3 linked regions of the Homo sapiens genome follow. The protein of the gene in region 2 interacts with the protein of the main gene of each other region in a biochemical or structural test. Each region holds a gene or a part of one and is shown on either strand. Other genes may lie near its edges.

Evidence for each region.
Region 1: the proteins of ITGB7 (region 2) and MAPK8IP1 form a complex in vitro, tested with the Homo sapiens proteins (one study listed by IntAct).
Region 3: the proteins of ITGB7 (region 2) and EED form a complex in vitro, tested with the Homo sapiens proteins (one study listed by BioGRID).

Annotation. Positions count from the first base shown.
Region 1 is NC_000011.10:45,888,556-45,892,305, reverse strand, and holds part of MAPK8IP1 (C-Jun-amino-terminal kinase-interacting protein 1), read right to left. Parts: intron 1-3,750. UniProt on the Homo sapiens protein: The JNK-interacting protein (JIP) group of scaffold proteins selectively mediates JNK signaling by aggregating specific components of the MAPK cascade to form a functional JNK signaling module. Required for JNK activation in response to excitotoxic stress.
Region 2 is NC_000012.12:53,193,639-53,197,388, forward strand, and holds part of ITGB7 (integrin beta-7 isoform a precursor), read right to left. Parts: intron 3,183-3,750; coding exon 2,941-3,182; intron 2,562-2,940; coding exon 2,403-2,561; intron 2,084-2,402; coding exon 1,988-2,083; intron 1,826-1,987; coding exon 1,736-1,825; intron 1,505-1,735; exon of another isoform or gene 707-1,504; coding exon 560-706; exon of another isoform or gene 264-559; coding exon 70-263; exon of another isoform or gene 1-69. UniProt on the Homo sapiens protein: Integrin ITGA4/ITGB7 (alpha-4/beta-7) (Peyer patches-specific homing receptor LPAM-1) is an adhesion molecule that mediates lymphocyte migration and homing to gut-associated lymphoid tissue (GALT).
Region 3 is NC_000011.10:86,254,655-86,258,404, forward strand, and holds part of EED (polycomb protein EED), read left to right. Parts: intron 1-567; coding exon 568-633; intron 634-1,732; coding exon 1,733-1,858; intron 1,859-2,860; coding exon 2,861-2,942; intron 2,943-3,750. UniProt on the Homo sapiens protein: Polycomb group (PcG) protein. Component of the PRC2/EED-EZH2 complex, which methylates 'Lys-9' and 'Lys-27' of histone H3, leading to transcriptional repression of the affected target gene.

The sequences.
Region 1 (3,750 bases), on a different chromosome or scaffold from region 2:
TCCCCACCTACACCAGAGTCTGGGCTAGGATGTCAGGTCCTCTGGGAAGACGGTGCTGGCTGAAACGGTGGGGTGGGGATGAGCCAGACCCAGCATCCCTCTCAGGCCCTCGCTCTACCCCCACCACCTGGCTCTGGGTGAACATGGGGTTGGGCTGGGTTTGTTCTTTGGGTCAGAATTCCCTTCCTGACCACCTCCATACGGAGGTCATCTCCAACGAAAACTGAATCCAACCAAAGAAATGAGCCCCGAGGGACAACCCCACTTGCGGTTATAACATGTTTGATCTGTTTAAACATCTTCATGCTGATACATTGCAAGAACTCTGGGATCCAGTTGTTCGACTTTTGGGAAACTGCTTCGAGGAAACAATCCCACATTGTTTGGAGAAGAACTGTTACACACAGGATGTTCATTCCTCATCACAGCAAACAACTGAAAACACCTGCGTCACCCAGCACCAGGGGGCTGGTTCCATCGTGGCCATCAGCAGATGAAATGTGATGCAGTCTTTTGGAATCAACATTATAAAGTCTGTGTATTAAGGTGACAACTAATAAAATGAGCAAAAAGACAGCATATATGATCCAGTGGTCTCCCCAGGATGATATTGCACACAGGAAGAAACACTCACATGGACACAGAGTTGTGAGATGGGGTAGAATCTGGGGCGCTCTTTTCTCCTTTGCTGTCCTTCACAGACTTTCATCTTGGGTCATGCCAGCCTAGCATGGGCTCCCCGTCTGCTGCTGGGCTGCCTGCCCTCCCCAGAGCTGCAAGTTTCCTGAGGGCAGGGTCATCATACTCACCTGGGCACTGACTCCCCACCTTTGCTCCAATCTATGCACAAAGCCCAAAACCCTGCACACCATAGGTGCTAAATCAGTGCCTATTAAAGAGGCACTGCAAGCAACATGACAGCAGGAGCCATGAGCTCTCCACTGGCATCTCCAGTGGCGGAACAAGGCAAAGCACCCAGAGACGCTCCTGCTATTTTGGAATGAATACAAGAGTGGGGCCAGGGAACAAAGATGGCATCATAGAATGATTAAGAACTACGTGTGGATGGTGGCTGTGACCCAATTTGTGGGAACCATGGGGGCCCCAAGCTAGAAGTGTGTTGTGGCCCATTTCCAGCAATCCAGAGACGAACTTTAAAGCTCTGCCATCAGCGAGCTGGGGTTGAAATTCTGCCCTGGCCACTGCCGGACTGTGTGAGGCAAGTCAACACTCTCTGCCTCCACATCCAAGGTCCATCAGGAGCCAGGCCAAGGCGGTCCTGGGCATGAGGCAGCTCCAGCAGCACCTCCCCACCTCCACCGAAACATGGTTGGCTGAACAGGCCACCGGCCAGCCATCTTCCTGCCCTCTGCTCAGTCTCCCTGGACAGTGATGTCCTCTCTGAGGCTTCAGTGGCCATCCCTCCAAACTCAGACTCCCAGGGTCTTTGGCCCCAGCCCTATCCTCTCCTCTGAGCTCCAGACCCAAAACCGACTGACTGTATGATTCCTCCAATTGGGTCCTCCAATGATCCCCAGTCTCAAATTCAGCAGGTTCCCACATGATTTTCACACCCTGCCCACCGCCCTCTGGTCTCCCACTGGACACCCCACCCACCAAGGAGCCCCAGCATCATCCTAGACTCCTGCCTCCCCACTCCCTATTCTGTATCCCTCACCAAGCAGGCTAATCTGCCCCCTAACTCTTCCTCACACCCTGAACCTGTCCCTCCTTCTTACCAGCAGGATGGCTAGTCCCCTGGCCGCTCTCTACCCAGCAGCCAGGTGATCCTCCTAGAACAAGCTTGTCTAACCCATGGCCCATGGGTGCGTGAGCCCCAGGATGGCTCTGAATGTGGCCCAACACAAATTCATAAACTTTTTTGAAACATTATGAGATGTTTTTGTGTTTTAGCTCATCAGCTATCGTTAGTGTTAGTGTATTTTACGTGTGGCCCAAGATAATTTTTCTTCCATGTGGCCCAGGGAAGCCAAAAGATTGGACACCCCTGTCCTAGAGGATCTGTCTGACCCTGTCATTCCTTTCCTAACCCCCTGCCAGCTCCTCTGGCTGTTGGTGAAGAGGTCGGCATCGTCACATGGCCTACAAGTTCCTGCACATCCTGCTCTCCACCCTCCTGCCAGACTGGGCACCAGACACCCTGCCCACCCGCTCTGGTCTCCGCCCTTCACTCCAGTGACACCCTTGGGTGATATTTTTATGCGTCCACCAGGCCTAAGCTGAAATGTCCCTGCCTCTGGGGGGCCTGTCTAGACCCGCTGAGCCTGGGTCCCTTGACCTGAGCCATCATCACACCGACCAGCCCATCTGTAAAGCCGTCTGTCTGTCTGTCTCCCCTCTACAACACCAATAGCATGATGGCCAGGCCCACGTCTGGGCCTTTGCAGTGTTTCCCTGGTGACCTAGGCAAAGTGCAAACGTTTGTTGAGTGAATGAAGGAAGAAGCCTCTCGGTGGCCCCATCTCTCATCCCTGAGGCAGGGTGCTGGGGCAGATGGCAACCATCCAGGCAGCCATGGCCTGGCTCTATCCCAGCTTTGCCACTAATTTGCTGTGTGCTCTTGGGGGAGCCACTCGCCCTCTCTTGTTTCCTCATAAGGGGAGGGAGCTGGTTGGACGAGCTGGTCTCTAAGGTCTCTCAGATCCACGATTCCCCTTCTACACACCCCAGACAGGCCGCTCGCTCCCTTCTTGTCCATGAAACCCCCTTTGTCTCTGCTGTTCCTCCCACGTGAACTGTCCTTCTGCCCCTCCTCTTTGTCCCACCTACCCAGTGCCAATGTCTCCACTGTGTAAATTTCTAAATTCTCTTTTCTAGAGTTTTCTTTATAATGAACATGTATCACTTTAATTTTGAATTTTCTTTTATTATTTTGTAAGACACAGAAGTAACCTATACTCATTATAAAATAAGAAGTCAAATACAGGTGAGCAGCCCTAATCCAAAAACCTGAAATCTGAAATGCTCCAAAATCCTAAATGTTTGAGCACCAACATAACAGCACAGGCTGTAAATTCCACACCTGACTCCACATGACAGGTTGTAATCAAAACTTTGTTTCATGCACACAATTATTTAAATTATTGTATAAAATTACCTTGAGGCTATATGTATAAGATATATAAGAAAAAATCAATTTCATTTTTAGACTTGGGTTCCCATCCCCAAGCTATTTCGTTATGCATATGCAAATATTCCAAAATCCAAAAAAATTAGAAATCTGAAACACTTCTGGTCCAAAGCATGTCAGATCAGGCATACTCAACCTGTAATATAAAAGTATGACACTGGGCGTGGTGGCTCGAGCCTGTAATTCCAGCACTTTGGGAGGCTGAGATGGGTGGATCACCTGAGGTCAGGAGTTCAAGACCAGCCTGGCCAACATGTTGAAACCCCGTCTCTACTAAAAATACAAAAATTAGCCGGGCGTGGTGGTGGGCACCTGTAATCCCAGCTACTTGGGAAGCTGAGGCAGGAGAACCGCTTGAACCCAGAATACAGAGGTTGCAGTGAGCTTAGATCATGCCACTGCACTCCAACCTCCAGCCTGGGCGACAGAGTGAGACTCTGTCTCAAAAAAAAAAAGTATGTAAAATAAGAAGTAAAAATCCCTCACCCCATACCATACCCAAAGGTAACCAACCACTATAAACAGCTGGAGCTATAATCAGAACAAAAATTAACACGTATTTAACCTACCACAAACAAACGAATGCTCCCACCCCTTCA
Region 2 (3,750 bases):
GGAGGAATACGGGCCAGGGTTGGTTGGTTGTTGGGAGCCAGGTGGTTGAAGGGAAGAGGAGGCCCTCACCTGCATACACCACATTGTAGGTGTCCCTGGCCATCACTGCAGTGGGGAGCCTGGGGCTGGGTGTCACTGCAATTACAGTCACACAGCGTGTGCAACTCCACAATCAGCTCCTCTGAGAAGCCAAGGGCCCGGAGCCTCAGGAGATGGGGCTCTGGGAGGCAGTGGGTGGCTTGGAGAGAAACCCAGAAAGTCACCTGAGAAGAGGCAGGAATCAGGCCATGGTTATACACATGCACACACACATACCCCAAACTCACCAATCATCCAGAACCTCACCCCTTAGTAAATGAAGGGATGGGGTCATGTTAACACCCAACTCCTAGAAACATGCCTGAGGAAGCCACTCAGACTGCTCCAGGAAGGATGGATGGAGGACTACCTCAGGCTCTCATGTCACTCCCTGTACCTGCCACCCATCTTTTCCTGCCTGCTTAATTTCCCACTCCCACCTCCCCCTGCCCGCCTTCTGCCTGTGCTTGCTGGCTCTCACCGTCTGGTTGATTCGGACGTGGTTGCACTGTCCTCGATCCTCAGCCTTACCCTCCCTCTTCTCAGGACCCTCACACTGGGATTCGTAAGAAATGTGGACCCCAGGAGGGAGTGAAGAGTGTTCAAGGGTCACGGTGGAAGACAGGCTCTATGGGAAGAGAGCGAGTGGATAACCACGTGAAGGCAGAAAAGGACTCCAACCCCACCTTATGTCCTCTCCAGGTGTTCCCAATTCTGCCAGCACCCTGCCCTCTGCCACCTGGGGCTCCTTCCATTCTGCCCAGTCGAGGCATTTCTGGAGGGAGGACCCGTGAGAACCTTGCATAGAACATACAGGATCCAGAGGCCTCTAATACAGCATTTCAGTGCAGCTGCCAGCAAGGGCCACTGAGGGTCACAGGCTGGCCAGGTGCTGTAAATGTACAGAGACCATGTTTGTGAAGCCCCACATCAGGACACATAACCTGGGTGCATGCCAGGTCTAAAGGGCAGATTCATTACAGAGTTTATCTTGGGAAATTTGATACTGTCTCAGATTTTCTTGCCATAGGTTTAGGAGATGCTCCCTGTTATCAAGAAGCCTACAGCCTAGTTGCAGAGGTAAGACCTAAACCACTAAGAATTTTTATGGTTCCTTCTACCTGTAAAATTCTATGGTTCTTGTGAAGAATAGCTCTGAATTATTTATAAACTTAGTGAAAGCAGGCTCCAGATCTCACATTGTTTATGTACAGACTGACTGGGGACAAATGCCAGCCCTTCTGTTTGTTATCTTTGTGACCTTGGACAAGTCACTTAGCCTCCTTGTGTGGGTTTCCTCATCTGTAAAATAGGGATGGTAACAGTTATGAAGCAAGGCTTTTGGCAGGGTTAAATGAAGTAGCAAACAGTATGTACACCTAGGATGGTGGGCGCATGAAATAAAAGCTCAGTGATTGAAACTTTCCTTTCTTGCCCAGAGCAGAGCTCCATGCTGTCTGCATGTCAGATGTTTTAAGATTTATGAATGTAAGATTGAACAGTTAATGACAGCCACATGCAGACTATAGGTAGGAGCTGTGGAATGTTAGACCAAAAAGTGACCATTTCCTCTTAGTTCTGCCACCCCACCCAAGGGCCCCTTTCCACCTTTCCCTAGTGCCCACCCTCACCATCTCCCCTTCCCCTGGCCCCTCACATTATAAGCATCCATGATGAGCTGTACCACGTTGCTGGAGTCCTCACTCAGCTCCCCAACTGCAGACTTAGGAATCAGTTTACTCAGCTCCTGAGTTTTGGGGAGTTAAGGGAAATGGTGGGTCACAGCTCTAGGAAAATGGGCTCCCGGAGGTCTGGAAGGAGGGCATATGGGGGACGGAGAATGTATCTTTGGGGGAATTGAGAAAGGTTGGGATGGGGCTGGGGGATCTGACATGTAGACAGCTCTCACCTGGTAGACAGGCAGTGCGGCACTGGTGACAGCAAAGATGGGCTGGATATTTGCTGCAGAGAGGGCCTGGGCTACCTGACCCACAGAAGGGTAGTCCTGGGACAGGGAGCAGGGACAAGGTGAGCCCCACAGGTTTCCCCCACAACATGCAAGGTGCCCTCAGCCCAGGGAATCCAGGAACCAAGGTTCCACCAGCTGGAGGAGCCCTGGAGGCTTGCTATGGAATAGGAAGGAGGTAGGGAATGGGGTGACAAAGGTGTCCTGTCTCGGCAGCTGAAAGGAGGAACTGCTGGAGAAGATGGCAGGGTGTCTACAGGGTGGTTACTGGTGAGGACTGTAAGGCTGGGAGTGGGAGTCCTGGAAGGAAAGAGGTGTGGCTGAAATGGGGAGAGGCAGGGTGACAATAGGGACTCACAAACTCTGTGCTGCGACTGTAGAGGCCATTGCTGTCCAAGTGGCAGTGCCCATCACTGGGCATGAAAATGCCGCCCAACTTCCCGTCCCCAGCTGTATGGAATGTGTCGTCTGAAGTGAACACCAGCAGCCGGGACACATTTCTCCAGCCAATCTGCTCCTGAGTTACAGTGGGGGTGGTAGGCTATGCACCTGGGCATGGCCCTTGAGCCACCCCAGCCAGCTCTGTGAGCCAAGAATGTGGCCAGCCTCACTCTGAGTCAGCTTGTCCATCCCCTTGCCTCCAGTACCTTGCTTCTCCCTGCTCTCTCCAGCCCCCTAAAGAAGGCTGCTGCTAGTGGAGGCTTACTTGTGAATTCGAAAAACATGCCTCCTCCTCAAGATATTTTACTCCAACCCACCAGGTAATTGCTAAATATACAAACTACAGCAACTATGGTATGAATGGCACCCCCTAGAACTGTGCACTACACAACCATAAGGGGCAGTCCTGTTCCCAAACAGACCTCCAGGCTCAGATCCCCGCCCCACCTCCTCACCTGGCAGAGTGCAGCCTGCAGAATGGCATCGAAGCCACCTTCAGGCGAGTCCAGATTGCCGGACACACTCTGGCGCCCCACCTCCCGCTCGAAGGCTTGTGCGTCCCCCGTCAGGGACAGCACATGGTGAAAGCTGAATGGTGACTGGCAGCGCTCCAGCCGGGTGGGGCAGGGGTGGCGCAGTTTGGAGGGTACTGTGCTCACAAAGGGCAGCACCGTTTTGTCCACAAAGGAACCAAAACCTGGGAGAGGAGAGGAATGAAGGTTGTGCCAGAAGTCGCAGGGCAGCAACAGAGGACCCATGAGAGCGCTCTATGGGAAGTGGGGTGGGGAGGACGGTGATGGGAGAGGGTGCACCTAGGGGGCAGGGACCTGGTAACTGGCAAGCAAAGCAGTGAGACCACTGGCTCAGGGAAGTGGCAGGTAGAAGACATTAAGAGGAGGACACAACTTCCTGGGCAAATGGGAACTTCCAGAAGGCGGAAGAAGGCCCGGGTATAGGATATGGTAGCAGCATGAGGCAAAGGAAGGAAATTTGAATAGAGGAGAGTTGGCACAGAATGTGGAGCCAGGGACAGTGGCATCTAGGTCTTGTCCAGGGAGACTTGCATCAGGGCAGGTTCCAGGTTGGTAGGCCCAGGGCAGCTGTCCAGGCCCAGAGAGTGCCTGAGCACAGTCTCTCCAGACGCTGGGTCTCAGGCCTGTAAAACGGATAGTCTCTTGAGTCCTCTCCAGCTCTGACCTAGAAGATGGGTGTCTAGGGAGAGATGCAGGAACGAACCTGTGGCCTGGCTAGGCCTGTCAACAACT
Region 3 (3,750 bases), on a different chromosome or scaffold from region 2:
CTTTTGTTGCCAGGCTGGAGTGCAATGGTGCAATCTCGGCTCACTGCAACCTCCGCCTCCCGGGTTCAAGTGATTCACCAGCCTCAGCCTCCTGAGTAGCTGGGATTACGGGCATGTGCCACCACGCTCAGCTAATTTTTGTATTTTTGGTAGAGACAGGGTTTCACCATATTGGCCAGGATGGTCTTGATCTCTTGACCTCATGATCCGCATGCCTTGGCCTCCCAAAATGCTGGGATTACAGGCGTGAGCCACCGTGCCCGGCCTAATATTTATTTTTTAATAGAGATGGGGTTTTGCTATGTTGCCTAGGCAATTGAATGGATGAAATATAAGTTTAAAAGATTGGAAATCGAAACGACTATTACTGCAATATTTAATATGCTCTGTGTATTATGTAAAACATTCAGCTTTATAATGGCTTCTTTAAGCTCACAGGAGGTATTTTAAGGCAGTAGTTTCTGTAGTATATTTAAGATAGGATTGCGATTAAAATATGTTTAAAAGTTGGAGAGAGTATGTTTTCTATACTTGAGATGAAATTTACTGTATTTTTATTTTCATTAGGTTACCTTGTATGAATGTCATTCACAAGGAGAAATCCGGTTGTTGCAATCTTACGTGGATGCTGATGTATCCTTTCCTGGGTTTTTAATATCTTTAGTCAAAGGAATTTATTTTCAATAAGTGCACCAAAACTTTTATAAATTAATCATTTCCCTAAAGTTATTGTTCTTTCTTAACCGATTTCTTCACTATCACCCAAGAGAATCCTGTATCTAGTTTTCCTGACCCTTAGAAATCCATTGTGGTATGTGTCAACTCAGCTAGGCAAAAAGAAAAAGAAAAGAATCCATTGTGGGATGGATGTGCTGGTTGGGTGCAGATGTCTATAGAGATAGGAGCATTAGAAATCTAGTAATAGAAAATATTAGCAAAGACTGATTAAAACCTCCTTTTTCTTTGACCTTGCCTAGAATATATCATTTCATTGTAGTTATAATGATGAACTTGGCTTGTGACTGGTAGTCATTCTAAGTATTTGATCAACGAAGCCTAGGAAGAAAAAAAAAGTTTAGGAAAAATAAAATATATAAAAATAAAATAAAATAGGAAATAAAAATTGCAAAACAGGTTCATAAAGAAACAGAAAAATTTGAAAAGCCCGAGTTAGAGCGGTAAAAGCTAAGTAATAAGATATTTCTTCCAGATCCATTTGAAAAACCTAGCAAACAAGACAAGGCAAGGACATTCAGTCTTCTCTAAAAGATATTGAAATGTGACCTGTTGTTGTATTGAGACTGTCTCACAAAGAAAAAAGTGGAAAACTGAATTGTTCTTTTTTAGATATTTATAGAGGTATGGGGATAGAGCAGAGGTTAAACTACAGCGTGCAGGTTGGTCACCTGTTTTTGTAAAGTTTTGTTTTGAACACAACCATGCCCATTCATTTGTATATTTTCTGCAGTTATTTTGGTACTGCAACTACAGAGTTGAGTAGTTGTACAAGCAGCTAAAGAGTAAACAAAATTGAGTGGAGAGACTGTAATTTTGTTTGATCATTTGTTATGGATTTTAGACCTCAAATCACCATTGTATATATTTGGTTGTATAAGGAAAATTGAGAACTTTGGTGTCAAAAACTTTAGCAGTTCTTTATAAGTTTCTATTATAATTATTGACATGTTTCTTTTTCAAAAACATTATGTTTCTTAACTGTGGAATTTCTTAGGCTGATGAAAACTTTTACACTTGTGCATGGACCTATGATAGCAATACGAGCCATCCTCTGCTGGCTGTAGCTGGATCTAGAGGCATAATTAGGATAATAAATCCTATAACAATGCAGTGTATAAAGGTGGGTTTTTCTGGTTAAATTGTAGATCTGCTTCTTTTGAATCCACAACTGTAAAAACTTGTAATGTTAAATTTAAAACTAATGGTATGAATGTAACATTTCTCATTTGATTTGTACTTTTCTTACTGCTCTCTTTGGATGAGTCTTTTGAGACGTTTGTCACATTTGGGTAATGTAAATTAAGGAATAAGTGGGAAAATGTTAATATTTGTAGTGCTTTCTTTTTAAATCATTTCCCTCTTTCACCCTTGTCATGGTTTACTTTGAGAGGCTCTAAATGAACAATAAGAGGGAGTCCATTTTCCAAGACACCTAAACTGGAGGGGTGTTATCAAAGGGACCTTGTAACGAACATAAAGGTGAAGCCTAGGAAGTTGATAAGAAGACGGGTTTTTCAAATCACTTTCATCACCTGTTTTTAACTGTTGGGCTACATCACACTCTCCTGAGGATGCTTAAAACCCTACGCATATTGGAGCCTCCGCTAATCCGATCAGAATATCTGCAGGTGGAGTTTTGAGCATCTTTTTTTTTTTTTGTTCTGAGACAGATTCTGACTCCTTTGCCCGGGCTGGAATGTAGTAGCATGATTATAGCTCACTGCAGCCCGTCTCCTGGGCTCAAGCGATCCTCCTGCCTCAGCCTCTCAAGTAGCTGGGGCCAATTTTTAATTTGTGTGTGTGTGTGTGTGTGTGTGTGTGTGTGTATGAAGATAGGGTCTTGCTGCATTGCTCTGACTGGTCTTGAACTCCTGACCTCAAGCGATTCTGCCTTAGCTTTCCAAAGTGCTTGGATTAAAAACATGAGCCACCCACTGTGCCTGGGGTCTTTTTTTTTTTTTTTTTTCCTTTTCACCTCAAGTTTGTTGGGTGATTTTAGTATGCAGCCAAGGTTGAGAACCACTACTTTAAGTGAAACTATTTTTACATTCTCTAAAGATTTATGAAAAAAAATTTACTGATTTTGAGATAGGAAACTTGAAATGTTTTAAATTTATTGTAGCACTATGTTGGCCATGGAAATGCTATCAATGAGCTGAAATTCCATCCAAGAGATCCAAATCTTCTCCTGTCAGTAAGTAAAGGTAAGTGAAGCAAATGTTTCTTGAGTCTGTGCAATTTGTCAGAATTAAGATGGAGTCACTAATGTCAAGAAAACCCTGACAAATAGGAAAAACCATGAGAAGAGAGTCCACATGCTTGTATGTCTGATAATAAAAACTCACAAAAAAACACAACCACAACCTTGCACAAAGGCCATCACAGCCTTACACAGAAAATACTGGCAGTAAGTGCCTCTCCATCCTGAGACTGGCATCACCCTTGTTACTGATTTTGTGGCCAATCTTATTTCAAAACAATTATGTAATCCTTCTCATTTTTTTCTTTAAAAACCTCTGTCTTTCCTTTACGTCTCGGAGAACACACATAGTTTACTTTGGCATGTACATTCTCATTGCAGTGCATTATTTCCATATAAACATCTTTTATTTTAGAGAGCCTCTCTGTTACTTAGGTTGACAGGTCCTGTTTTATTTTAAGTCTAGTATCTGTTAGTTATTTTTCCTGATCTTCTTACTCCTCCCACCCTCTACCCTCCAGTAGGCCCCAGTGTATGGACAGATAGTGTTCTAAGGAAATAAAGCCAAATTAAAAAAAAGGTTATAACAGTACATTTTAGTAGGAAAATCCCAGGCTATGTTAGCATATCCAAATCATTTTGTCCAATCATGTAATAATAAATACTACATATGAAAATTCATATTGCTTTTTTATTTTTTAAAAAAGCTTTTGTTTTATAAAGGATTTCCTATAGAATTTCTTAAAAATGCTACGTTTTTCAGGATAAGTTATTTGAAATATTCCCATAAAGGGAAAGCATTGCATTTTGGA